Regions from separate parts of the Homo sapiens genome. Here all the other regions are linked to region 1. The links come from fine-mapping of genetic effects on gene expression. A gene starts in region 1. Each other region holds a variant in brackets. All regions are shown on one strand. Distances are between the middles of the regions.

Region 1 (5,105 bases):
GCAGAAGTCCTGTGTTGGCTGGGTGGGTGTGGGGAAACCGCCACAATTTCACTCACTGAAGACCCACCAGGATTGTCAAGCAGTAAGAAGATAAAACTGTGTAAGAAATCTGCTTAGCTTGCTTTTAAAGGTCAAGAGGATCCAACTGTGGAGTTTAAAGTTAAGTTACCAGGGGTGATGTTTAAAACAGTTTGAGAAGCACTGGTGGAACAATTCACTCTTTTTCAGCTTCCTGAATTAGAGAAACAGGGTAGAAGCTTGTGAAGAGAGCAACAGAAAGCAACTCACGTGTCTACCTGTGGGTGTAAACAGTGTGTGCACCGAATATGTCACGGCACGTTTCAGCCATGGGACTGTTTTTTGTTTGTTTGTTTGTTTGTTTTGGTCTTTTTTTTTTTTTTTTTTTTTTTTTGAGACGGAGTCTCGCTCAGTCGCCCTGGCTGGAGTGCAGTGGCGTGATCTTGGCTCACTGCAACCTCCGCCTCAAGCTATTCTCCTGTCTTAGCCTCCGGAGTAGCTGGAACTACAGGCCGCACCACCACGCCCAGCTGATTTCTTATCCCCCCTACTCTGCCCCGTTTTTAAGACAAGGCAAGAGAAAAAAGAGGGGTTCTCATACTCATCTATAGGTTACCGGAATGTCACATGGGATAAAGAAGGAACAATAAAGAGGAAAAAATACAGAGGAGGATTTCTCTGGAGTAGAACACACAACCACCCTCACCCTCCCAAACAAATTCTGTAATCCAATGCCTATAATATTCCATTCCACACAGAAGCCAGGTTCTTCGTAATTCCTCAGTTACTACATCTAGAAATTTACACGTAAGTAAAGGCCACCTTTCTTTCACCAAAACCTTCTAGGAAGAACAAAATGTGGCTGTGTACAAGGAATTCGAATTATTAATACGTTTATTTCTGTTCTCCTGCGCCACACTTTTGACTTTGCCGAGGGAAAAGGCAGGTGCTGCCAGTGCTCCCGGTAGACATGCGTCCCCAGAAGCCAAGTGCAGCCCGTCTGGTCCCTGCTGCCTAAAGTCCCTGTGCACTGCGACGACGACGCACGCTGGTTCCCCCCAAGCCGCAGTGGGTTGTATAACCACGCTTTGAACACCTAGCGGGAGCGTAGCGAGCTTCCCTCCCAGAAGCATCTGTTAGAAGTCACTGGTGTCGGTCCATAAAAGACCCACCAGGCAGGAGGGACCCCCAGACTCTGGGGGAGGGCAAGCGAGAGTTGCTGTTAAGACATCATCGCCGGGGGTAGTGCAGGGAGGTTGTAAATCTCTCTAGGAGCTGTGTGAGCCCCAAGTTCTGTGCCCAGAGCTGGCGGTGCAGCGCGGTGAGGAGCGCGCTGAGCCCGGCTGCACCCGCATTTGTGCGCATCAGGGAAGGGGGATGGGCGGAAATGCAAGAATACGGGGGTGGGGGGGAGTCTAAGAACGTCTCCCCGGGGAAGTGCCAAGGACATCCCCGCTCCTCCGTTCCATTACGTAACTCTTACATATTTGCTGGCATCTACGTGAATTTAACTACTTTTGAAAGTGGGAAGTCTCTAAATGGACTGCATTGAAAGCGTCTGGGGATATCTCAATAGACCCGGTTGCCCCTGGCAGCGTTGGAGGGTGGCATCCTGGTTACTGGAAGGCCAGGCCTCCCCGTCCGCTCGCAGCGGCGGGAGCCGGGTCACTGCCGGGGACGGCGCCCTCTCGGCCCGGCCGGCCCCGCGTGGCGGAGTCGCAGGGACCCGCACGTCCGCAGCCGCCCCCTCCCCGTACCCGGCGAACACCTGCCCATGGTTACCTCCGGCGCCGCGGCTCTGCGCAGCCCGTTGGCCGGAGCCTCGCCGCCCTTGCCGTTGGCTGCGGGGAGATGCTCGACCCCGGGGACCCGCGCCGCGCGCTCCGTGGGGTCCGCGCCGTTCTCCCGGGGGCCTTCATCCGGAGCGGGGAAGAGCCCGCAGCGGCGCTGGAAGCGGGCGACGAGCTGGGAATCCTGCAGGCTCCGCAGCAGCTCGGCCATGGTGTGCCCGGGGCCGCGCTCCGCCGCCGCTGCCACGCCGGGCCGGTGCCCTCCGCTGGCACCGCCACTCCCGCCTCGCCCCCGCCGATCCCGCACTCCGGGCGGAGGCCGGGCGGGCGGGGCCCCGGGCCCAGCCAACAGGTGCGCCGCCCGGGTCCTAGCGCCCGCCCAGGTGTCTGCCTCCACCTTGCGCAACGCGTCCCCCTTTCTCTCCGTCCCGGAGGGCTTGGGCGGCCCCGGGCGGCCACGGGGGCAGGACCGCCTGTAACTGGACGGAGGAGTGCCGATCTCCGAACTGCGCCTCTCTTCTCCCGGCGCCCCCAACCCCCCACCCCACCTTCTTCCCCCGGCAGACGTAACACTAATGGGAGCGGCCGAGCGCGCGTGCACCTGCGGCCGCTCCCATTAGCCCATCCTTTTGGGCTCAGGCTGATCCCACAGTGACCTTCCTTGCAACTCTGAGCCCAAGGTGAAGTCGGATTTCCTCCCACGCCAGCTCCCCACAGCCAGCCACGTACTCTCACCTTCCTGCAAGACTAGTTCCCAGTAAATACAGCGAGCCCCCCAGGGAGAATTCCCAAGTTCTTTCCAAACTGCGTGATGCAACGTCTCCCTAGAGGTCCGAACACCCTTGAGCTTGCTCAAGTACCCAGGAGGTTCAAAGTGGGCCCTGAGTCATCTTCCGCGTCGCTGCCCCTGCCCTTCTGATTTGGCAACTGGGGAACATTTTCAGGTGGGTGGGAAGGAAAGTCCCTTCTGGGTTTTCCGCATTGAGAACAAAGATGCTTACCGCTTTCTCCTACTTCTTTCTTTCCGCTCTGCCTCTCTTTAAGCAATGACACTGGGAAAACCCCACCAGACCATTTAGGGAGTTTAAACGAGAAGAGAACAAAGTGCTGGAGGACTGGGGACAGGATTAGGTATCTCATTGCACCTGCACCTGCTTTAGAGCACTCAGCAGAAGATAGCAAAGGAAACATCCTGCAGGCCGGCCTTGGTTTTCCCTCCTCCCTCCTACATTTCCCTCCTGGGCTCAGAGATCCCTTGGGAGGCAACAATCAAATTAGGCCCAGGTGATCAGTCTGCAACAAAAGTGCAATTCAACCCCGTCTTTCGTTTGCAGCAGAAACCTGCATGTTTCCTGATTGTCCATGCAAAGCCTACTAAGAATTTGGTTGCACAAATGATTAATGAACACCTGTCAATGCCTTATTTATTCAGTTGTCCTTTTAGGCCTGAATGTCTTTGGGATGTGACTTTCCAGGATGATGTAGTCCCCTTCATGCCCTAGTTTCTACTTTTCTTGCTTCTCAGTCCTGTCTGGAGAGCAAAGTCAAGGGGACTGAGAGAATGCTGAAGCTCTTAAGGGAAACCATTTTCCTCTTACAGAAGACACGCAGAGTTATTGTCATGTCTGGCGGGATCACACACAGAAATGTCCGGCCCAGGAGGTGGAAGCATCTCTCCACAATGCTTCTGGCTGTCATTTACAGGTGTGAGGCAAAACCCTGTGGTTTGGTTTTAGAAGCTGGAGCTGTGATCGTTGGGGACCTGTTCTGCTTATGTGTTAAAGAAATATGTTTTCCTGTGAAGGCACTTGCATCATGTGTCTCCCGAATTTAGTGCTTCGATTTTTCTTTCTACCAGTTAGGAAAAATAGGCAAAGCAAAACATGGCACACGCAGCATTAAGTTAATTGCCAAAGAATTGTATTTGTAGACAGAGCATTTTATCTCCATGGAGGATCAGTTACTGATTCCAGCTTCTAGTGGCTCACCAAGTCACCTGATGTAAGTCACCATATGTCGCAGTTTATCCCTGTAATGAAATGATAATCCTCACTTCTTGTCTTTCTTATAAGGCTCTTGTAAAAATAACCTTGAGACAAGCTCTATAAGGCCTAGTGAGATCATGATAAGAAGGTGTATTGTGCTGGAGTCATTCAATCTAGGAAGGAATCCTCAAGAGAATTTGGCTCTGAACATCTTGAGTAGGACATCTTGAGCCTCCTGGGCAGTGGTAAAGTCCATTTCCCCAGAACCTTTTTTTTCTAAGGCCCAGTCTGATTATTCTGAACATGAATTTCCCAACCAACCTAACAAAAATCAACATCTTTGAGAAGTGGTAGGACTGAAAGACTGCTGTAATGGTGCAGAGATATCAAATAGTAGCTTGCAGTCATGCAAAAAATTTTTTTTTCTTGATACCAGAGAAACACCCTGTAGTTCTTTGATCACTGAACACTAGTCATACCTGTGGGAAATACATTTCACATCCCGCCCCCCGACCTTTTTTTTTTTTTTTTTTTTTTTTTTTTGCCAGGGCAGAAATCCAGTTATTTGTACTTTGCTCACTTGTATATATGTAACAATTACAAAATGACATATTTAAAAGGAATCAATGATGGATATATTAATACTAGTTCGGATAAAGGTTAAGCTACTATAACAAAGAGACCCCAAAATAGAGTGGCTTAAGGAACACAGACATGTATTTCTCTTTCATAGAATGGTTCTAAGGCAAGCAGTTGAGGTTAGTAGGAAGCTCTGCTCCATGGCCCTACTCCATGACTCTGGTTCTTTTCATCTTATTGCTCCACCATGCCCTGAAACTGAGCCTTAGGTCATCGTCCTCTTTTGCATGGTTGAATCTGGGTTAGGGCTGAACATCTGAAGTTCAGCTCCTGAAAGGGTGAAGAGAGAGAGTGTTCTGAGCAGCAATGTCTTATTAAGCAAGTGAGGCAGAAGTTCACACATCACTTTCACTAACATTCCATCAGTGAGAAACAATTGGAAATGTTATCTCTAGCAGGGCAACCTTATGTCAAGCTTAAGCTATATTCCTGTGGAAGAAGTGGAGGACAGAATTTTTTTGTGGGCAACCAGCAGTCTCCACCAGTATTAGGAAACTAATGTTGGTTAAAATGTTGTACAGTAAAAATCCATGTTATAATTCAGCCATAATCTACACATTTTATCTAGGCAGCTTGTCATTCACTTGGCATGTTATAAATACTCATGTGCAGATAGAATTTTTTAAAAGAAGCCACACTAAAAATAAGTTATTCCAAAAGACAATTGGCCAGG
Region 2 (5,105 bases), 50 kb after region 1:
TTCCTTTAGTGTTGGTGCATATATATTTACAATTATTATATCCTCTTGCTGAATTGACCCCTTTAGCATTATATAATGACTGTCTTAGTCTCTTCTTACAGTTTTTGTCTTGCAATTTACTTTGTATTATATAAGAATAGCTACTCTTGCTCTTTTTTGGTTTTCATTAGCATGGAATATCTTTTTCCATCCCTTTGTTTTCAGTCTGTCTTTATAGATGAAGTGTATTTCTTGTAGGCAATAGATTATTAGATCTTGATTTTTTTTATCCAGTCAGCTATTCTATGTCTTTTGACTAGAGAGTTTAGTCCATTACATTCAATGTTATTATGATAACATAATTATTAAGGACTTACTGCTATCCTTTTATTTGTTTCTGGTTGTTTTGCAGTCTTTGCTTCCTTTTTTCCTTCCTTTCTGTCTTCATTTTAGTGAAGGTGATTTTCTCGGATGGTAGGATTTAATTTCTTGCTTTTTATTTTTTGTGTATCCATAGTATGTTTTTTGACTTCAAGTTACCATGAGGCTTGCAAATACTATCTCGTAACCCATTATTTTTAGCTGATAACAACTACTTAACAAACAAACTAGCAAAAAGAAAATTAATAAAAACTCTACACTTTAACTTTATCCCCTGGCTTTTTAACTTTTTGTTGTTTCTATTTATATTTTATTGCACTGTCTATGTTTTGAAAAGTTGTTGTAGTTATTTTTTGATTGGTTCATCTTTTAGCCTTTCTACTTAAGAGTAGTTAACACATCACAATTAGAGTGTTATAATATTCTGGATTTTTCCCCTAGAAGAAAACCTAGGCAATACCATTCAGGACATAGGCATGGCAAAGCCTTCATGACTAAAACACCAAAAGCAATGGCAACAAAAGCCAAAATGACAAATAGGATCTAATTAAACTGAAGAGCTTCTGCATAGCAAAAGAAACTATCATCAGAGTGAACAGGTAACCTACAGAATGGGAGAAAATTTTTGCAATCCATCTGACAAAGAGCTAATATCCAGCATCTACAAGGAACTTAAACAAATTTACAAGAAAAAAAACAAACAACCCCATCAAAAAGTGGGCAAAGAATATGAACAGACATCTCTCAGAAGACGACATTTATGCAGGCAACAAACATATGAAAAAAAGCTCATCATCACTGGTCAGAGAAATGTAAATCAAAACCACAATGAGATACCATCTCACACCAGTTAGAATGGTGATTATTAAAAAGCAGGAAACAACAGATGCTGGAGAAGATGTGAAGAAATAGGAACACTTTTACACTGTTGGTGGAAGTGTAAATTAGTTCAACCATTGTGGAAGACAGTGTGGCAATTTCTCAAGGATCTAGAACTAGAAATACCATTTGACCCAGTAATCCCATTACTGGGTATATACCCAAAGGATTATAAATCATTCTACTATAAAGACACATGCACATGTATGTTTATTGCAAGAGTATTCACAATAGCAAAGACTTGGAACCAACCCAAATGCCCATCAATGATAGACTGGGTAAAGAAAATATGGCATATTTACATCACGGAATAGTATGCAGCCATAAAAAATGATGAGTTCATGTTCTTTGCAGGGACATGGATGAAGCTGGAAACCATCATTCTCAGCAAACTAACACAGTAACAGAAAACCAAACACCACATGTTCTCACTCATAAGTGGGAGTTAAACAATGAGAACACATGGACACAGGGAGGGGAACATCACACACCAGGGCCTTTTCGGGGGTGGAGGGCTAGGGGAGGGATACCGTTAGGAGAAATACCTAATGTAGATGATGGGTTGATGGGTACAGCAAACCACCATGGCATGTGTATATCTATGTAACAAACCTGCACATTCTGCACATGTATCCCAGAACTTAAACTATAATAAAAAATAATTCTGGGTTTTTCTGTGTTCTTGCTATTGTCAGTGAGTTTTGTACCTTTAGATGATTTCTTGTTGCTGATTAATGT[C/G]CTTTTCTTTCTGATTGAAGTACTCCCTTTAGCATTTCTTGTAGGTAAGGTCTAGTGTTGATGAAATCCCTCAGCTTTTGTTTGTCTGGGAAAGTCTTTATTTCTCTCACATTTTAAGGATATTTTCACCGGATATACTATTCTAGGCTAAAAGGTTTTTTTCCTTCAGGACTTTAAATATATTATGCCACTATCTCCTGGTCTGTAAAGCACTGAAAAGTCTGCTGCCAGACATATCGGGGCTCCTTGAATGTTATTTGTTTCTTTTCTCTTGCTGCTTTTAGGATCTTTTCTTTATCCTTGACCTTTGTGAGTCTGATTATTAAATGATGTAAGGTAGTCTTCTTTGGGTTAAACCTGCTTGGTGTTCTATAACCTTGCACTTGGATATTGATATATTTTTCTAGGTTTAGGAAGTTCTTTGTTATTATCCCTTTGAATAAACTTTCTATCCCTATCTATGTACCTCCTCTTTAAAGGCTGTAACTCTTAGATTTGCCCTTTTGAGGCTATTTTCTATATCCTGTTTTATTATTATATTATATATTATATAATATGCTTTATTATTTTTTATTCTTCTTTCTTTTGTCTCCTCTGATTGTGTATTTTCAAATAGTCTGTCTTAAAGCTCACTAATTCTTCTGCTGGATCATTCTTCTATTAAAAGACTCTGATGCATTCTTCAGTGTGTCAATTACATTTTTAAACTCCAGAATTTCTGCTTGATTTTTAAAATTATTTCGATCTCTTTGTGAAATTTATCTGATAGAATTCGGAATTTATTCTCTGTGTTATCTTGGATTTATTTGAATTTCAACTCGAAATAGTTATTTTGAATTCTTTGTCTGAAAGGTCACATATCTCTGTTTCTCCAGGTTTGGTCCCTGGTGCCATATTTAGTTCATTTAATGAGGTCATGTTTTCCTAGATGGTCTTGATGCTTGTGGATGTTTATCTGTTCCTGGGATTTGAAGAGTTCGGTATTTACTGTAGTTCTTACAGTCTGAGCTTCTTTGTACCTGTCCTTCTTGCGAAGGCTTTCCAGTTATTCAAAAGGACTTAGGTGTTGTGATCTAAGCTGTGCCTGCCCTGGGGGCATCCCAAGCTCAGTAGCCCTGTGGTTCTTGTAGACTCATAGAGGTACTGCCTTGATGGTCCTGGATAAGATCAGAACAAGATTACTAGACAGAGACTCTTGTTTTTTCTTCTTACTTTCTCCCAGAATCTCTCTTCCTCTCTCTCTCTCTCTCTCTCTCTCTCTCCCTGTTCTTTACTGTCCAGAGCTGAGGGTGGGTCGACACAAGCACCCCTGTGGCCACGACCACTGGGACTGCACTAGGTCAGACTTGAAGCCAGTATCACACTGGGTTTCACCCAAATCCCACCATAATCACTACTTGGCCACTAACTATGTTTACTCAAAGCCCTGGGGCTCTACAATCAGCAAGTGGCAAAGCCAGCCAGGCTTGTGTCCTTCAGGGCGACAAGTTCCTCAGGCCCTGGGTGGGTACAGAGGAGCCATCCAGGAGCCGGAGACTGAAGTCAAAAACCTTAGAAGTCTACCTGGTGCTCTATTGTACTGTGGCTGACCTGGGATTCAAACCATGAGAGTCTTTCCACTCTTCCCTCCCTTTTCCACAGACAGAGGAGTCTCTTCCAGAAGCCACCATAGATGGGAATGTGCTGAATCTCACCTAAAGCCAGGAGGTCTCAGTTTCACCCAAGGCCCACAGGGGCACTATCTGGGTATCGATGCTTGTTATTCAGGGCCCAAGGGCTCTCTAATCAGCCTGTGATGGGTCTTCCCTTCAAATCAGTGGGTTCCCTTCTGGCCCAGGGTATGTCTAGAAATGTCATCCTGGAACTAGGGCCTGGAAAGGAGGCTTCATGACTCTGACTAGTGCCCTGTCATACTGTGGATGAGCTGGTATCCAAGAACTAAGATCGAGTCCTCTTTACTCTTCCTTCTCATCTTTTCAAGTGGAAGGAAGGAGTCTTTGGAGCTAAGAGCTGTGCAGCCTGGGGTTGGGGAATGAGTGGCATACAAACACTCCCTTAGATGCCCTGGCTGGTATCTCAGTAGGTCGTGTGCCCCCCAAGTCCACTAGCTCTGAGCCCAGTTCAGCACTAGGTCTCACCTAGGAGTTGCAGCCCTTGTGGCCTAGATTACCTTTCAAGTTTATTTATGGCCCCAGAGCCCTTTAGCCTGTGGTGGCAAGCCTTGCTGGAACTCAAGTTCTAACTACTCAGATGGACAATCTCCTCTAGCTAGGGTTGGTTAAAATGCTCCCTCCGTAGGCAGGTGTTAGCTGAGTTCAGGCCAGTTTTGCTTTCTGCTGTGACAGTGCAGCACTAGTTCAATAAAATGTCTCACAGTTGCTGTGCTCTCCCTCTCCACAGTGCACAGATTCTCTATGGCAAGGAGCCACTGTTGGGAGATGGGAGTGGATGGTGTCAGCAATTCAAAACTGTCTTCCCAACCCTCTTCCAGTGCCTTTCAGTGTTATAATGTTGAAATCAGATACTGTGAGTGCTCACCTGATTTTTTATTCTTATGAAGGTTTTTTTTAGTATAGATAGTTGTTAAATTGGTGTCCTTGTCATGGAGAACGATTGGTGGAGCTTTCTATTCAGCCATATTGCTTCTCCCCTCTCCCCAAGTGTCTCTTAATGGAAAGGAGGGGAGATGGGATTTTATCCCCAGTGGACATTTGGCAATATCTGGACATATTTTTGGTTATCACAACTTGGGGAGGGGTGTTCCTGACCTTGACTCATTAGAGGCCAGGAATGCTGCTAAAAATCCTACAATACACAAGACAGCCACCTGTAACAAAGGATCATATGGCCCCAAATGTCAATATTGCCAAGGCTGGGAAAACCTTTAATACACAGCGGTGTAGTTTCTTCAGGAGCATTTGGAAGTGTGAGGAGCAATAGGCATTACTTTGGTGGTTTCAGGACTGAAAGACTGGGGAGTACCATTGGCATTTATACTGGAAGCTAAGGATTCAAAATATTTTGGAGTGTGCTATAGTCTCAGGCAATGAAGAACTGCCCAGTCTCAAATGCCAATAGCACCTTTGTTTGGAAACACTGCATACCTTTATGTCGTTTACATTTACTTT
Region 3 (5,105 bases), 39 kb before region 1:
GATTTCAGGCATGAGCCACCACAGCCAGCTAGCAAGACTACTTCATTTAGCAATAAGTGCTATGACGAAATTAAAGCAGGAAATGGGTTACAAAGTGATCAATGTGTGTCTGGGGATGCTTGCCACAGAGGAGCCATTTGAGCTGAGCCCTGGATAAGGAGAGGTGTTGCTTCTTTGAGGGTCTGCGGGTCAGAGAGAGAACACTTAGTGAAAGGCCCCAAGCAGGAGGCAGCTCTGCCTGCTGGGATATGTGTGAAAGAGACAGAGAGGAGATGACCTCAAGAGCAGACGTGAAACCAAGCCCAGACTTGAGACTGAGGCTGGAAGGAGCAGAAAGCCATGGGAGGGTTTTAAATGGGAGCACAACTGGATTTACTCTGGTGAGACTAGAACAAATTTTGGCTCTGAAACAGTGGGATGAAGCCCTGCTTTAATTCTTTTGTTTTTTGATTTCTTAAACTTGGTGAGAAAATATCATTAATTCCCAGTTCTGAACTGAAAAGCCACTGGGGTGAAATGGCATCATTTCTACCATGAGGGAGACCTGTGGTGTCCTGAATTCACAAATCTATTTACTAACCTGGCCCGTCACTTTTAATTACTCACTTTTTTTTTTTTAAGAGAATCAAGACTTTCCAACCTATAAAGAAAATTAAATGATGATTACTCAGGAAGCCTAAGAAAGACTGACAGTGTCCCTTGAAGGAGAAAACAGAAGGAACAAAAATGCACGAGGGCTTCTTCTTTCATCTTCAAGTCCAGATAGAATTACAAGTTGGGTGATCTAGCCAATGTCTAAGCAGCGCTCAGGTGATTAAAATTTCAGGATGGCGAGACTGAAAGTCAATAAAATGTAAGGACAACTTATTGGAGTCAGCTTGAGAGGGAACTGCACACTCATCACTGTCACCTGCTTAGTGGGCGTTTGTCGGGATCCCTCTGCTGCGTCCAAGGATAGGAGGGAGGGTTGAGGGGACTGAGCCCAATGTGGCTTTCATTTTACAGTGGAATTTCAGTTGTAGTCTTTTACACAATTTGAACTGTTTTCCTCTTGATAATCTGTCATATTTCAGCTCATCCTCTGAACATCTAATATCTTTTCTTCCTTTTCCTCAAGGTGGACCAGGACTACAAATTAAGAAATTCTTGAAATTGTGAGACAGTGACCCATGGTGGCAACAATGCTCTTCTTGACTCTAGAAAAGGGTCTTGTAACTAGAAAAAACACTGTCTCATCATCACTTAAAACCCTGTGCTTGGGCTGGGTGCAGTAGCTCATACCTGTAATCCCAGCTGTTTGGGAGGCTGAGGTAGGAGGATCGCTTGAGGCCAGGAGTCTGAGAAGAGCCTGGGAAACATAGTGAGACCTGTCTCTACAAAAAATTAAAAATATTAGCCAGGTATGGTGGCACACACCTGTGGTCCCAGCTATTTGGGAGGTTGAGGTGAGAGAATTGTTTGAACCTGGGTGGTAGAGGCTCCAGTGAGCCATGATCATGCCACTGCACTCCAGCATGGGCAATAGAGTGAGACCCTATCTCAAAAAAGCAAAGAACAAAAAACCTCTGTACTTGAAGGACACAGCATTTGCTTAGGAACCAAATCTGGGCATAGGATAGTGAGAGGGTTAGAAGCAAGCCTTTATCTGGATAGGACAGAAATTTGCAGTCATCATTTCAGAGACCAGGAATGTGAACTTCTGCTAGAGAATTTCTTCCACAGACAATAAGAGACATTGGCATCGATACAAAGAACAGAAATAACCACTGCCATTTTTAAAGTGGGTGGGAGAGCCAGCTGCCCTTTAAATAATCAAAATGTCTTAAGAACTTAACTGTTTTTCAAAACATCTTGGATCTGCTAAAACCTGAAACACATTGAACCGAACATTTTTCCATTTAATTATTAAGCCCTTGTATGTGCGGAGGGATTTGGCAGGCAGATGTTTCTGATTCATTTATATTAACTTATCGAAATGATACTTGGAAGAGCTGTATGATGTTCGAGAAGGAGTGTTATAAACTTCAGTTTACTCGTTTTCATCCAGGCATTTCCCCTCACCCCAACACACGTACAGGATTCAGAACTTGGGAGGGTTGATTCAGTCTCTTCTAACCTGGCAGCATGTCCTCACCCATCCCTACCTCCCTTCAAAAAACATTTTCTGAAGCATTAAAAGGCACTGCCAAAAATGTAAGAAAATTATTCAGGCATAAATAAAGTTTTTTCTGTGATAATCTTTTATGTACCAAGATTTTAAAAGCAAATAGGTAAATCATACAAACACAAAACTGAAGTCTGACAAATTTGTCACCAAAGTCAAGGTGGTTTTATACAAGGGCTTTCCCACTTCCCTCTTTATTTGGGCTAAATGGCCACACAATTTTTAGCTTGGAATTTTCTTTCAGGACAGTCATGTTAGTGGGTGCATGTGTACGTGGAGAAGGAGGCTGAAGCAAAATGGTATCTTCATGCTACTCCTCCCATTTCTTTCATTTTTTAAAAATAGAGACAGGGTCTCACTCTGTAGTCCAGACTGGGCTCAATTCTCAAGAGACCCTTCTGTGGCACCATGATCAACTATTTTTTTTATATTTTGTAGAGACAGGGCCTTACTATGTTCTTGAACTCCTGGCCTCAAGCAATCCTCCTGCCTCCCAAAATGCTGAGATTATAGGCTACTGTGCTCAGCCGCTTCCCCATTTCTTGAATCCAGCCCTTTGCTTTTCAGAGCTCTAAAGGAATCCAAGATGGTAAAGACAGTGCTTGGGAAGGATTTTCCTTTCTTGATCCTTCCCAGTCCCTGGGGTGACTGTGGATATGTGGTAGTGGATATCCGTGATCAGTCAGGGATGGAATAGACTAAGTGGGGACAGAATGGAAGAGGGAGGACATTTTGCCAAAAGAGTCTTGCTGTCTCCACGCTCCTCCTAAAGTCTTGCCTAGAGCAGAAATTCTTGAGAAGTTCCATCAATTTCCGTCACATTTTCACACTGTAGTTCCCCAATGGGAGGCTGTCGCTGAGGAAGTTTAAAGCCATTCGTCACAAAAATAAACTCA[G/A]GAAAAGCTTTGAAGTTGGGTGCATACACATGAAAGAACATTAAGAAGAAAACCATGCTGGGTGGGAACAATGGTCCTTCCCACCCAGACTACCTCCTCCGACCCTGCTTGCTTTGTGCTCTGAGAATTTTTGTTTGTTTGTTTTTCTGATTATCTGATTATCAATTTTTTTTCTGATTAACACATTTTACTTGAGAACATCATGGAAGTTCCAAAACTATATAAAAATAAAATCAAAACTGCCATTGTCCCACCCCTCAGACAATCCTCTGGAACATTCCTCGTGGTCCCTTTACTATGCATAATCGTGAGTGCAGGTGGTGCTATGTATCTTAACGAAATTGTGATTGCGATTAAGATCGAAAATCTTAAATTTTAAAGCATTATTACATTGTGAGCATTTCTCTAGGTCCCTAAATATTATTTCAGACCATTCTTTTGGCTGAGCTTAGCTTTTTACCTGTCTAGATCCAGTTTTGCTGCGTTTCACTTCCTCATCCACCCATTCTCACAGCAGATCCAACAGCTGACCCCTACAGCAAACAAGCCCACCAGATGACCAGTGTTGACGTGAGCATGAGTCTTGTCACCCAAGGGTCTTCTAACTCCCTGCTTACTCCCTGCTCACTTTTGCTCTAACATGAGTCTTGTCACCCAAGAGCGTTTCTAGCTCCCTACTCACTTCTGCTGGGGTGCATGGAGACCCCATTCCCATGGACCTCTTTCTACCCTGCTCATTCCTTAACCTGACCAAATAAGCATATGTGTTGACCATGTTCCCCGCCACCATCTGCTTGAGTTTCTTGGCCTTACGATGTTTGCTTGTGTTATTCTCCTGAGGACCCAAGATCTCTCTGCCATGTTTTGCAAAAGCTTCAAGCATACGCTTTAAGGCCTCTCAAGGACCACAGCTCAGAGATACACTGCTGAAGAAATAAAGAACGACCTGGGGACAGGCATGACTCATGACGGTCGCTGTGCTGAGGCAGAGGGACAGTCCCCTAACCCATTTCACACAGGTAAAGCCAAGTTCTCTATACTTTGGAAGTCACAGGGGTTTGTACACAAGCTGGAGACTTCCTTTGTTGGCTCCAGCCAGCTGTGGTTGAGATAAACGAATATGAACAGAACCTAAGAGCAGGTCCCCAACCCCTGGGCCATGGACTGGTTCCATTAGGAACCAGCAGGAGATGAGTGGAGGGTGAGTGAACATTACCACTTGTGCTCCACCTCCTGTCAGATCAGTGGCCCCGTTAGATTCTCATAGGAGCACAAACCCTATTGTGAACTGCACATGCGAGGGATCTAGGCTGTGCACTTCTTATGAGAATCTAATGCCTGATGATCTGTCACTGTCTCCCATCACCCTTAGATGGGACCATCTAGTTGCAGGAAAACAAGCTTAGGGCTCCCACTGATTCTACATTATGGTGAGTTGTATAATTATTTCATTATATTAATATATTACAATGTAATAATAATAGAAATAAAGTGCACAATAAAGGCAACGTGCTTGAATCATCCTAAAACCATCCCCCCACCTGCCCAGTCCGTGGGAAAATCGTCTTCCATGAAACTGGTCTCTGATGCCAAAAAGGCTGGGGACTGCTGCCTAAGAGGCTCTGGGTGTCATCACCAGCCTTGGGACCAATGCCGGACATGCTAGGTAACTCTGGGGAAGTCTGAACTTATAACTTCACCTTGCAGTGGGGACAACACCAGCTTCTTTACTAAGGCATTTGGAAGGGGAAATGGAGTCACTTATGTAAATCACATGCTACCCCATCAGGCACACAGCATGTGTTCAATAAATGGTCATTGTATTTGCATTTCTATTAACAATGTAAATCACAAGACAATGTCAAAAGAAAGTCCAGTTGGAGTAGAACACAGAGGAGAGAAAGACGGTAAAAAGATTCGAAAAACAGCCGAATGTGGTGGCTCATGCCTATAATCCCAGCACTTTGGAAGGCAGGAGGAGTGTTTGAGCCTGGGGGTTCAAGGCTGCAGTGAGCTATTATCATGCCACTGCACTTCAGCCTGGG
Region 4 (5,105 bases), 110 kb before region 1:
TGGAACTCACCTAGAAACACAAATACAACACGCAGTAGTGTCAGATCTCAAATCCATGCTGTCCCTAAATGTGGCTGCTTTTTATTTATTTGGGAAAAGTGGATGCATTCTCAGTACCACCCAGACTTTAAGCCTTTATCGAGCTCCCTGCTCAGCATGCTGGAATTTAATTGGCACTTCTGAGTCTTTTGAGAAACCAGCCACTTCCCAATGGACCACATCTGAAGCCAGAGTCTTAGCCCATTTGGCTGCCTGGCCACTAGCCTCAGGGAGGTCCCCACTTCCCCTCCCAGTCAGGCTAATTGTCAGTTAATTGTAGGCTCCTCCAGGTCTGACCACACACCATGCTGAAGCAGCCTCCGAGGTGCCAGGCTGCAGAATGTCAGAGGCCAACTGGTTTCTCCACTGCGGCAGAAAGGATGCGAGTGGCTTCTGGTCTGAGGCAGATGGACCCAGTGCCTGCTCCAGCCCTTTCGACTGTGGCTCTCTGCCACGCAGGGGCCTCTGACCTCTGCATCACTCTGGTGCTTGACCAACTTCTGTCTTTGTCCATCTCCTGTGGTCTGCACTCAAGGCTCGTCCAGCTCCCATCCTAGACTTCCAGCCCTTCCAGCAGCGGATTCATCCTCCACTTGTAAAAGAGATGAAAACAGTGCCCCCACTGTGGCTTTTTTTTTTTTTTTGAGACAGAGTCTCGCTCTGTCACCCAGGCTGGAGTACAATGGCATGATCTTGGCTCACTGTAACCTCCGCCTCCCAGGTTCAAGCAATTCTCCTGCCTCAGCTTCCTGAGTAGCTGGGATTATAGGCACCTGCCATCATGCCTGGCTAATTTTTGTATTTTTAGTAGAGATGGGGTTTCACCATGTTGGCCAGGCTGAGTCTTGAACTCCTGACCTCAGGTGATCTGCCCGCCTTTGCCTCCCAAAGTGCTGGGATTACAGGTGTGAGCCACTGTGCCCAAAGGCTTGAGCCACTGCGCCCCCACTGTGGCTTTTTGAACAGCGTTGGGAAAGAAGGTACACAAATTAATTTGCCTGTGTTTGTTGTTAGTAATACATATGAAAGTTCTTGCTGGAAAATATGCTAAGGCCTAATCCCAACAATGGGTATCTGAACTTCTCCTTTGGTGGTTAAATAATAGTGATTTATTTTGTCTTTTAAAAAAATTAAAACCAAGAGGGAGTGAATGTTTTACCATGAGTATTCATTACTTTTGAAACTAGAAATAATTCCCTATTTTTACAAAAGGGTAAAAATATGTCTCTCTAGGGTAAAGAGAAAACAGTGACATACTAACATAGTGACTGATGCTCAGAAACATAACTAAATTCCCATTTTATCTCAGTAACTCATCCAACAGGGTGTAACAGAAAGTAAGGCTTGGTAGGGTGTAATTTATATTGCCATCGGCTTTTTTTCCCATGTTAAGTAAGGCATTTTGAAGTAAGTTTTTTTAAACAACATGAAAAAATACAACAAAAATGCTCTAGTCCAAAGCCAGAACACAGTTTTGTATGGTCTGCAGATAATTTAGTATTTGAGAAACCTTTTCAACATTCTCTGACTCCAACCAAAACTAAAACAAAAGTTGGGAGGAAAAAAAAATAAATGAATAAGCAAATAAAACAGTATCTGTGTAATTATCCAGAGATCAAACAATTTAGGGACAATAAAATAAAGCAGCATTTCAGCTAGGTCAGGTGCAAAATAATGGAACAAGTATTCACTGTTTGTTCATATTTCACACATTCGCTAACAACAAAAATTCTGGCTAGTTTTAATATATTTGGGATGGTTGTTTCATTAGTCAAAGGGCTTAAAATCCGTTTTGTGTAAGTTGAATAGTCAGGGCATCATAAATATAGTATGATGAGCCTTCTTGGTTTGCTCTAGCCCTCCTTCCTCCACAAACACAATATTAGGTCCACATTTTGAGACTTTGAAAGAGTAGGAAAAATGCCATGCTATAGATGCAGAGAGCATATCATGGGACTT[T/G]GTCTGCCCTGCTTCTGATGCCAGGAGGCACTTTATTTTAGAGAACTGAGCCTCCTGTATGCCAATCCCAACCCTAACCTTTGCTGCCAATCAGAGCCACTGCTCGCACGGGTTGGCTCCAGACCTGGCTGGTTCCATCACAGTTCTCAGCACCCCTGGGATAGCATTTGATGCAGCCACGGACTTATTATCCAGGTGCAGCCAATGTGAGATCTTCCCTGAAACTCTCCTCCCTGAAGTCCTTTAAGGAGCGAAATAGAAAAAAAAAAAAAATAAATGAAGCCCAGAACTCCAATCTCAGGGAGGATGGCAGACCGAGAGTATGAATCCACCATGCAGAGATAAGCTTGGGTAAGAGTGGTGAGGGAAGCTTCTGATGAAGGTCAAGGCCTGGGGTCCCACTCTCCCAATGCCAGCTGCACCTCTGACCTCCTTATACTATGGTTATAAACATCAATACATTTCCCTGTAAGCTTAAACTAGTTTGAGTTGATGTCTGTTATTCTCATTCAAGGAGTCCTGACTAACGCATCTGGTAACCACTTGATTTTGGGCATATTCAATTGTGGTGAACTTACTGGGCTCTTTCCAGTCCCTGTTCTCAGGACACTGCCTTCACATCCTACAGGAGTGGCTCCCAGGTTGCATTTCTGCTCTGCGACCTGTCCCCCTGCCAAGGGTCACTGGTCCAAGGGTAGTGCTGGGTCCAGCCGAAGTCTCACCTCCATATGTTAGAGTTTTGATCTGAGGGAGGAGTTGTCGGGAGCTGGGATACATGAATGGTGGCACTCCAAAGGGAAGGTGATGACACTCCTCAGAGCCACCCCTCTTCTGGTCCCTCCTGAGGCTTGTTTTTTTGACAGCTTCCTGAGCTCCACAAGCTACCCCAGTCCTTCCAAGACATTCTATCTTCCCTCCTTTCCCTCTTTCTCTCTGTCTTTTCCTTCAGCTGGATGCAATTGGTTTATTCTTCAAACTAAGAGAACATGAAATTATACACCAAAAAACTGTTTTCATAAATTATCACTTCACATAGAATGCCTTTCACCATGAAAAAATGTAAGACCTCAGTAAAAACTGGCTTCAGCAATAAGGAACTCTGTTTTACCTTGAATGGTGAGCCCAGAGGTACGGTGGCCCCAGGGGTGGTAAAGTCACTCAGTGATGTCATTGGGGCCCCTGTGTTTTATTTCCATACTTTGGCATGGACAGTACTGATTTCTCTCAAAGGCCAATTCCCCAAACATTCCCAAATGGCTGCTGCTCACAAATGGGGCTGTGTCATCATTCACGTCCAGCAAGAGATAGAGAAACTTCTCCATGCATGGAATAGCATAATCAGATTTGGAAATAATTTCCAAGCAGTGGTGTAAGAGCAGCTGTGAGACATATTTAAGAGCCAGAACGGATTCAGCTTGGTGACTACCTGACTGATGGAGGTGTGGGAAGGGAGGAGCTGGGGTGTTGCCCATGTTTCTTGCTTGGGTGTCTTGGTAGGCAGGGACGCCTTCCCTGGGGTGGGGCCAGATCTGGTTTGGTGAGGATGATGACACAGCCATGCGGGTTTAATGCCTCCCCATGCTTCAGTTGGGCCTGCCCAGGAGACTAGCTGGAGCCCGTCAGCAAAGCCTTGACAGGGGCACCAAACCACATCTGACAAGGAGTGACTTCCTAAGAGGCGGGATAAGCAAATTATTTCTCTCCTTGAATTGCTCTCCTGCTTATGCAGAGAGAGCCATTTTTTTCTTTTCTTTCATTTTCTTTTTTCTTTTCTTTTTTTTCTTTTTTGAGACAGAGTTTCACTCTTGTTGCCCAGGCTCAAGTGCAATGGCGCGATCTCGGCTCACTGCAAACTCCGCCTCCCAGGTTCAAGTGATTCTCCTGCCTCAGCCTCCCAAGTAGCTGGGATTACAGGCATGTGCCAGCACACCTGGCTAATTTTTTGTATTTTTAGTAGAGATGGGGTTTCTCCATGTTGGTCAGGCTGGTCTCGAACTCCTGACCTCAGGTGATCCACCTGCCTCGGCCTCCCAAAGTGCTGAGATTACAGTCATGAGCCACCGTGCCTAGCCTAGAGAGAGCCATTTGTATCAAGCAGGCAGCCACCTGAATGATGTACTCACACGCCCTGAGCATCAAAGCTGTGTGCAATCAGAGTGGTTCATGTGGATGCTGGGTGTCTACAGAGTATCTGTCTCCACCTTCCAACCCAGTTTTGTTCAGGGGCATGCACATATCTAGCATGGAAGACAGATCATTAGTCCAATCAATGACTCTCAACCCCGGTTGCACATTAAAATCAACGGGGGAGCTTAAAAAAATACCAAAGCTCAGGACCCACCTCCATATATCTATTAATATGTATACACACACACATAACATAAAATTCACCACCTTAACTATTTTAAAATATCCAGCGGTATTAACAGGATTTATATTGTTGTGTAACTACCATGATCATCCAATTCCAAAATGTCTTTCATCTTACAAAACTGAAACTCTATACACAATAAATAAGAACTTCTCATTCCTCCCTGTCTCCCTGACAGCTGCTGGCAACTACCATTCTAATTTTGGTCTCTATGAATTTGATTACTCTAGGTACCTGATGTAAGTGGAATCATATAAGATTTCCTTTTCTGACTGGCTTGTCTCACTTAACATAATGTCTTCAAGGCTCATCCATGTTGTAGCAGGTGTCAGAATTCCCCACCCTTTTAAGGCTAATACTCCATCGTATGTGGACAGGCACACCTCATTTTACTCTGCTTCCCTTGATTGCACTTTGCAGATACTGTGTTTTTTACAAATTGAAGTTTTGTGGTAATACTGTATCCAGCAAGTCTATCGGTGCCACTTTCCCAACAGTCTGAGCTCATTTTATGTCTCTGTGTTCTCTTGCTTTCTTCTCACCTCCCTATGCTCTGAGACACAACAATATGAAATTAGGCCCATTAATAACCCTAATAGCCTCTCAGTGTTCAAGTGAAAGAAGAGTCACATGTCTCTCACTTTATTTATTTATTTTGGAGGCTGGATCTCATTCTGTCACCCAGGCTGGAGTGCAGTTGTACAAGCATACCTCACTACAGCCTCCAACTCCTGGG
Region 5 (5,105 bases), 180 kb before region 1:
TTGGATGGAATAGAAGAATCAAGTTGCTTTGTTTTATTTTCTGAATTTGGCCAGACTATTAACCTCAAGCTCCACATCAGCCTCTGATTATTCTAGAAGCTGTTTTGGTCTCCCAATAGGTTTTCTCCTAGCATCTTTCTTTGGGCTTTTAGGTGAATGTGAGAATAGGAGTGGAAAGTTTCTCTGGAAGACTCTGCTCTTTTCCAGTCTGTGCCATGTATGATAACATAACCAAACACCTTAGTTTTTAATCATTGGTACTTTGGTGGAAGAGGATCTATACCAAACAGGAGCCTATTTGAAAAATTTGAGTTATATGTAATAGTCATTTACAAGGGGACATCATGTACCACTCCTTTTTCTTTTCTGTTAAAAAATCATTTGGCGTGTTCTTTCATCTTATAGAATTGTAGCTAGCCGCCCCTCCTTTGCGCAGCTTAGATCAGCCCTCTCCAGGCAGTACTTTGAAGTCTGTGAAATACATAGATAATTTAGGCTGACATACTTGCCAGGCCCATTTAAAAAGCAGAATTGTTTGATGGCATGACACAAGCAGTCTGTTAACTGAGTTATAAAAGAACTGAGGCATTTCCAACAAACCCCAGCTTTGGCATGACTTTTAAATAGTTCTTATTTTGTGGTGTGTAGTCAGTGGACTTTCTATGATGTAGTATGGTCTCTTAGTGCAACATACTAGGAAATGGGAATGTTACTATACCCAGCAATTTCAAGGAGGAATGGGTGGAAATAAGTTTGTGGTTATTTTCTCCTTTGATTCAGTTCAGCTACAGTAGAGGGAGTATCTTAGCAAGATATAAGGAAGTAAGTCCGGAGAGAGCAATAACCCTTGGGAAACGTAAAAAGCCAGCCAATCAGTGTGGAGTTGGGAGGGGGCGCCTAAATAATGAGGTTAATCTAATTATTACGGTGGGCTTAATACAAAGCCCTAGAAATCAGGCTTTTCTTAAAAATATTGCAAAATTAAATCTAAAAATATATAGTTCATTATTGTATGTGTATGCTATAAACATCCTGAAACCTTTCTTGAATGAAATAGAGTATAAATTTTTTAAGTTCTCTTTTGTTTTTGTTTTTGTTTTGAGGCAGGGTCTCACTCTGTCACTCAGGCATGATCATAGCTCACTGCAATCTCGAACTCCTGTGCTCAAGGGATCCTCCCACTTCAGCCTCCCAAGGAGCTGGGACTACAGGCATATGACACCACCAGTGTGCCTGGCTAATCTTTACATTTTTTTAAATAATTTATTGTAGAGATGGAGTCTCACTTTGTTGCCCAGGCTGGTCTGAAACTCCTGGGCTCAAGTGATCCTTCTGCCTCGGCCTTCTAAAGTACTGGGATTACAGGCCTGAGCCACTGTGCCTGGCCTACATTCTATATTTTTTAATTGTGATTTTATTATTCTCATCACAAGTTTACTTAATTTGTTTTTTAAAATTCTAAATTTTTAATCCAGATATTGCTGCTCATATCAGAAATATAAAAGCTTTACATAATTTAGAAATCAGGAAAAAAGTACTTGGAATTTGGCAAAGATTACCAAAATAAAGCTTCCAGTTTAGTTGCTAAGCTCTCTCTTAATGGTAGTATTACTGTTGGGCTCTTCTCTCACAGCAAAAATGGAACTCCAAAGTTGTTTCAATACGTGCCTGTGTGTTAAAGTGGAAGCATGTGACATCCACACCAACAAATGGGTACCACATGGCAAAAATACCCAGAAGCAAGTCAGTAGTATGAAAGGGATAATTTAGTTCTGTTTCGTTTCATTTTTTTCCCTTCAGAGGGAGAGAATGAAAGAAAGGGAGACACAGAGAGAGAGAGAGAGAGAGAGAGAGAGAGAGAAAGTTTGTATTCCTACAGTGGAATCAGGCTCTTCAATTTAGTTTATGAATATGGTTGGTTTAGTGAGGTTTTGTGCCTGTCTGATTTTAATGTCGACTTATAGCTTTTAGATACCAAATTTCTTTATCTTTAAAAATGGAAATGATGGAGGTGACAGTGGTATGCTCCTCGCTTATCTCAGCTGGCATAGATATGGCCCACTGTCTGCTCCTGGCCCTGTTTAATAGCTATTTGTGTGTGCTTATCTTCTTTTTAGGCTGTAGGCATTTACTCAGAAAATAATTATTGAGGTCTGGCATGGTGGCTCATGCCTGTAGCCTTAGCACTTTGGGAGGCTGAGGCAGGCAGATTGCCTGAGCCCAGGAGTTCGAGACCAGCCTGGGCAACATGGTAAAACCCTGTCTCTACTGAAAATACAAAAAAAAAAAAAAAAAAAAAA[T/AT]TCAGTGGGCATGGTGATGTGTGCTTGTACTCCCAGCTACTCAGGAGGCTGAGTTGGGAGGATCGCCTGAGCCTGGGAAGTCAAGGCTGCAATGAGCCAAGATCATGCTGCTGCACTCCAGCCTGGGCTACTGGAGTGAGACCCTGTCTCAAAGAAACAAAGAAGAATTACTGACGGTTTAGGTTGTAGATGTCTTGTACTGGCTTTGACCTCTATCATCAAAGAATATCTAGAATAGAGCGCCTTGAATATAGTGTGTACTGAGAAATGTTAAATGGCAAGGGCAGTTATTTCTTTGTATCTGTTCAGTCCGAAGTTCAACTCAGAATATACTTTCCATAAGTAACAATACTTTCATGGCTAGAAACTTCACTGACTCTTAAAAATAATTTATTTCAGTTGCTTAAATGGAATTCTTAAGTTTCACAAAAACTTTTGAAAATAAAACATCTGTTTATCATATAAAAAACATTTCAACAATGCATATCTTTTTTTTTTTTTTTTTAAGACGGAGTCTCGCTCTGTTGCTCAGGCTGGAGTGCAGTGGCGTGATCTCGGTTCACTGCAAACTCTGCCTCCCGGGTTCACGCCATTCTCCTGCCTCAGCCTCCTGAGTAGCTGGGACTACAGGTGCCTGCCACCATGCCTGGCCAATTTTTTTTGTATTTTTAGTAGAGACGGAGTTTCACCATGTTAGCCAGGATGGTCTCGATCTCCTGACCTTGTGATCCGCCTGCCTTGGCCTCCCAAAGTGCGGGGATTACAGGCGTGAGCCACCGCGCCTGGCCTCAACAATGCACATCTTTGACCATATTAAGTGGATATATAGCCATACATAAGCTTGCCCTTATATTGTTTGTTTTCATTTAAATGTTTTTGGGTGTACCCTATAGTGGAAAGAGCATGGGTTTTACAGTCAGTTAATTCTGGTCAAATCCTGGTTTTGACCAGATAATTAATCGTATTAGCAATATAATTAATTAATATATATAATTAATATTATATTTATTATTATTATCTAATATATATAATAATATATAATATAATATTAATTATATTAATAATAATATAATTAATCGTATTAGCTCCAGCCAATTAGTTTGACTTTGGCCAAGTTACTTAATCATTCTGAGCTTTGTTTCTCCATCTGTTTTATAGGAATAATAATACTTACTTTGCATGGTTGTCTTGAGAATTAAATAAGATTATAGATAAATTGACAGATAGTTAATACCTAGCATGTGCCAGATAATCGATACCACAGATTAACAGTTAATGTTAGTTTTCGTTTTCCTCCATTTATGTGCTTACTTTTATATTATTTTAATATTAGAGTACAGTGTCTTAAAATATTCATGTTTTACTTGGATATCTAGAAGATAAAAGGCATTCTGTATTTTATGTCAACTATTGCTAGTAGCTTTTACCTATGGGAGTAAATCCGTGGAAGAAGTTTTGCTCAATGTATGCTAACATGAAGCAGCTTTCTGTTTTCAGTTTATTCCCTCAGATATTAGTTTGTTTTTTCTCTTTTTAATTTGGAAAGCAAAATGAGGCCAGCATTCGTTCTATGTTTGTGTTAGAGCAGCGGTCTCCAGAATGTATTGAAGGGCCACAAGTGTTATAAAGTTAAATGATGACTGCTGACTTTCAGTCTTCCTCTCTATACTTAGGTACTTCTTTTTAAAAATGAGTTTTGTTACAGGTTTAGATGATTTTTTTTTTTACAAAATAAAAATTTAATAAATTAATTTTCAGAAATCAATAGCTTTTATAGATACAATATGTCTAATTTCAAGCTCTAAGGGAAGAAAAGACCCATGTTATAATAGCACAAAACATAAATGATAACATACTTAGGAATAAACACAAGAAATATTATTTGTAGAAAATGTTAAAGTGCTAATGAGAGATGAAATAAGACCCAAACAAATGGGAAGATACACCACGTTCTTTCATAGAAATACGCAGCATCATAAAGATATCACTTCTCTCATTAATGGGTGCAGCACACCAACATGGCACACGTATACATATGTAACAAACCTGCACGTTGTGCACATGTACCCTAAAACTTAAAGTATAATAATAATAAAATTAAAAAAAAAAGAAGTAGAATTACTGGATAATATGGTATAAAAAAAAAAAGAAAAGCCACCTTTATCATATTCTCAATTCTTGTAAGTATTTAGATCTGTTTCTGAACTGTTCTGTTCCACTCATCTGTATGACTACTCACAAATTATTGCCACTCTGTTTTAATTGCTGTAGATGTATAAATTTTAATATCTAGTAGTCTCCCTCTATCACTATTGTTTTTTTATATGAACTTTAGAATCCATTTATGTAATTTTTTTCAATTCTATTGGTATTTTTTTTAAGATCACATTAGATTTGTAAATTGAGAGAGGTTTAGATGATTATAATTATCACTACAAGATCAAAAAGTTCCATCACCCTAAAAACGCCTTATTTTAGTTGCATTTTTTTCCCATACCTAATCCCAGACAACTACTATCTGTTCTCTGTTCCCATAAGTTTGGCCTTTTCCAGAATGTCATATAAATGGACTCATACTGTCTGTAGCCTTTTGAGAGCCTTCTTTCTTTCAGCGTAATGCCTTTGAGAGTCATCCAGGTTGTCAAGTCTATCTACAGTTTGTTCCTTTTTGTTGCTGAGTGGTATCCTACTGTATGGATGTACCAGTTTGTTATCAGTGTTCATTTGGACTGTTGGAATTCTTTTTTAAAATATTGCCTTTAGCTGGGCACAGTGGCTCACACCTTAATTCCAGCACTTTGGGAG

Which allele goes with the higher level. Alleles are on the strand shown, and positions count from the first base shown. SD is a standard deviation of normalised expression in the study named. Not every link is listed here.
For the expression in fetal neocortex of the gene that starts at base 2,079 in region 1, allele A in region 3 goes with a lower level than allele G (large effect, 0.91 SD a copy in Walker 2019).

Evidence for each region. PIP is the estimated chance that this variant, and not a neighbour inherited with it, causes the effect.
Region 2: its variant is the best candidate, but not a certain one, in a credible set for the expression of SGPP2 in blood mononuclear cells (TOPMed, PIP 0.51).
Region 3: its variant is the best candidate, but not a certain one, in a credible set for the expression of SGPP2 in fetal neocortex (Walker 2019, PIP 0.66).
Region 4: its variant is the best candidate, but not a certain one, in a credible set for the expression of SGPP2 in whole blood (INTERVAL, PIP 0.66).
Region 5: its variant is the best candidate, but not a certain one, in a credible set for the expression of SGPP2 in whole blood (INTERVAL, PIP 0.62).

The regions. Positions count from the first base shown.
Region 1 is chr2:222,421,517-222,426,621 of GRCh38, reverse strand. SGPP2 (sphingosine-1-phosphate phosphatase 2) reads right to left here and starts at 2,079. Exons shown (of 5, transcript NM_152386.4): 1 at 1,801-2,079. The coding sequence starts at 2,019. RefSeq lists enhancers at 1,086-1,145, 1,196-1,345, 2,536-2,835 and silencers at 1,646-1,695, 1,706-1,935, 2,026-2,375.
Region 2 is chr2:222,371,163-222,376,267 of GRCh38, reverse strand. No RefSeq gene overlaps it. Among named protein-coding and RNA genes, the nearest start is that of SGPP2, 51 kb to the left of the region's middle. The variant C/G (reference allele first, on the strand shown) is at 1,978.
Region 3 is chr2:222,460,937-222,466,041 of GRCh38, reverse strand. The region is part of intron 1 of SGPP2 (sphingosine-1-phosphate phosphatase 2); the gene reads right to left. Among named protein-coding and RNA genes, the nearest start is that of SGPP2, 39 kb to the right of the region's middle. The variant G/A (reference allele first, on the strand shown) is at 3,061.
Region 4 is chr2:222,530,956-222,536,060 of GRCh38, reverse strand. The region is part of intron 4 of SGPP2 (sphingosine-1-phosphate phosphatase 2); the gene reads right to left. Among named protein-coding and RNA genes, the nearest start is that of SGPP2, 110 kb to the right of the region's middle. RefSeq lists an enhancer at 1-437. The variant T/G (reference allele first, on the strand shown) is at 1,999.
Region 5 is chr2:222,601,918-222,607,022 of GRCh38, reverse strand. All of the region lies in intron 15 of FARSB (phenylalanyl-tRNA synthetase subunit beta), which reads left to right. Among named protein-coding and RNA genes, the nearest start is that of FARSB, 52 kb to the left of the region's middle. The variant T/AT (reference allele first, on the strand shown) is at 2,301.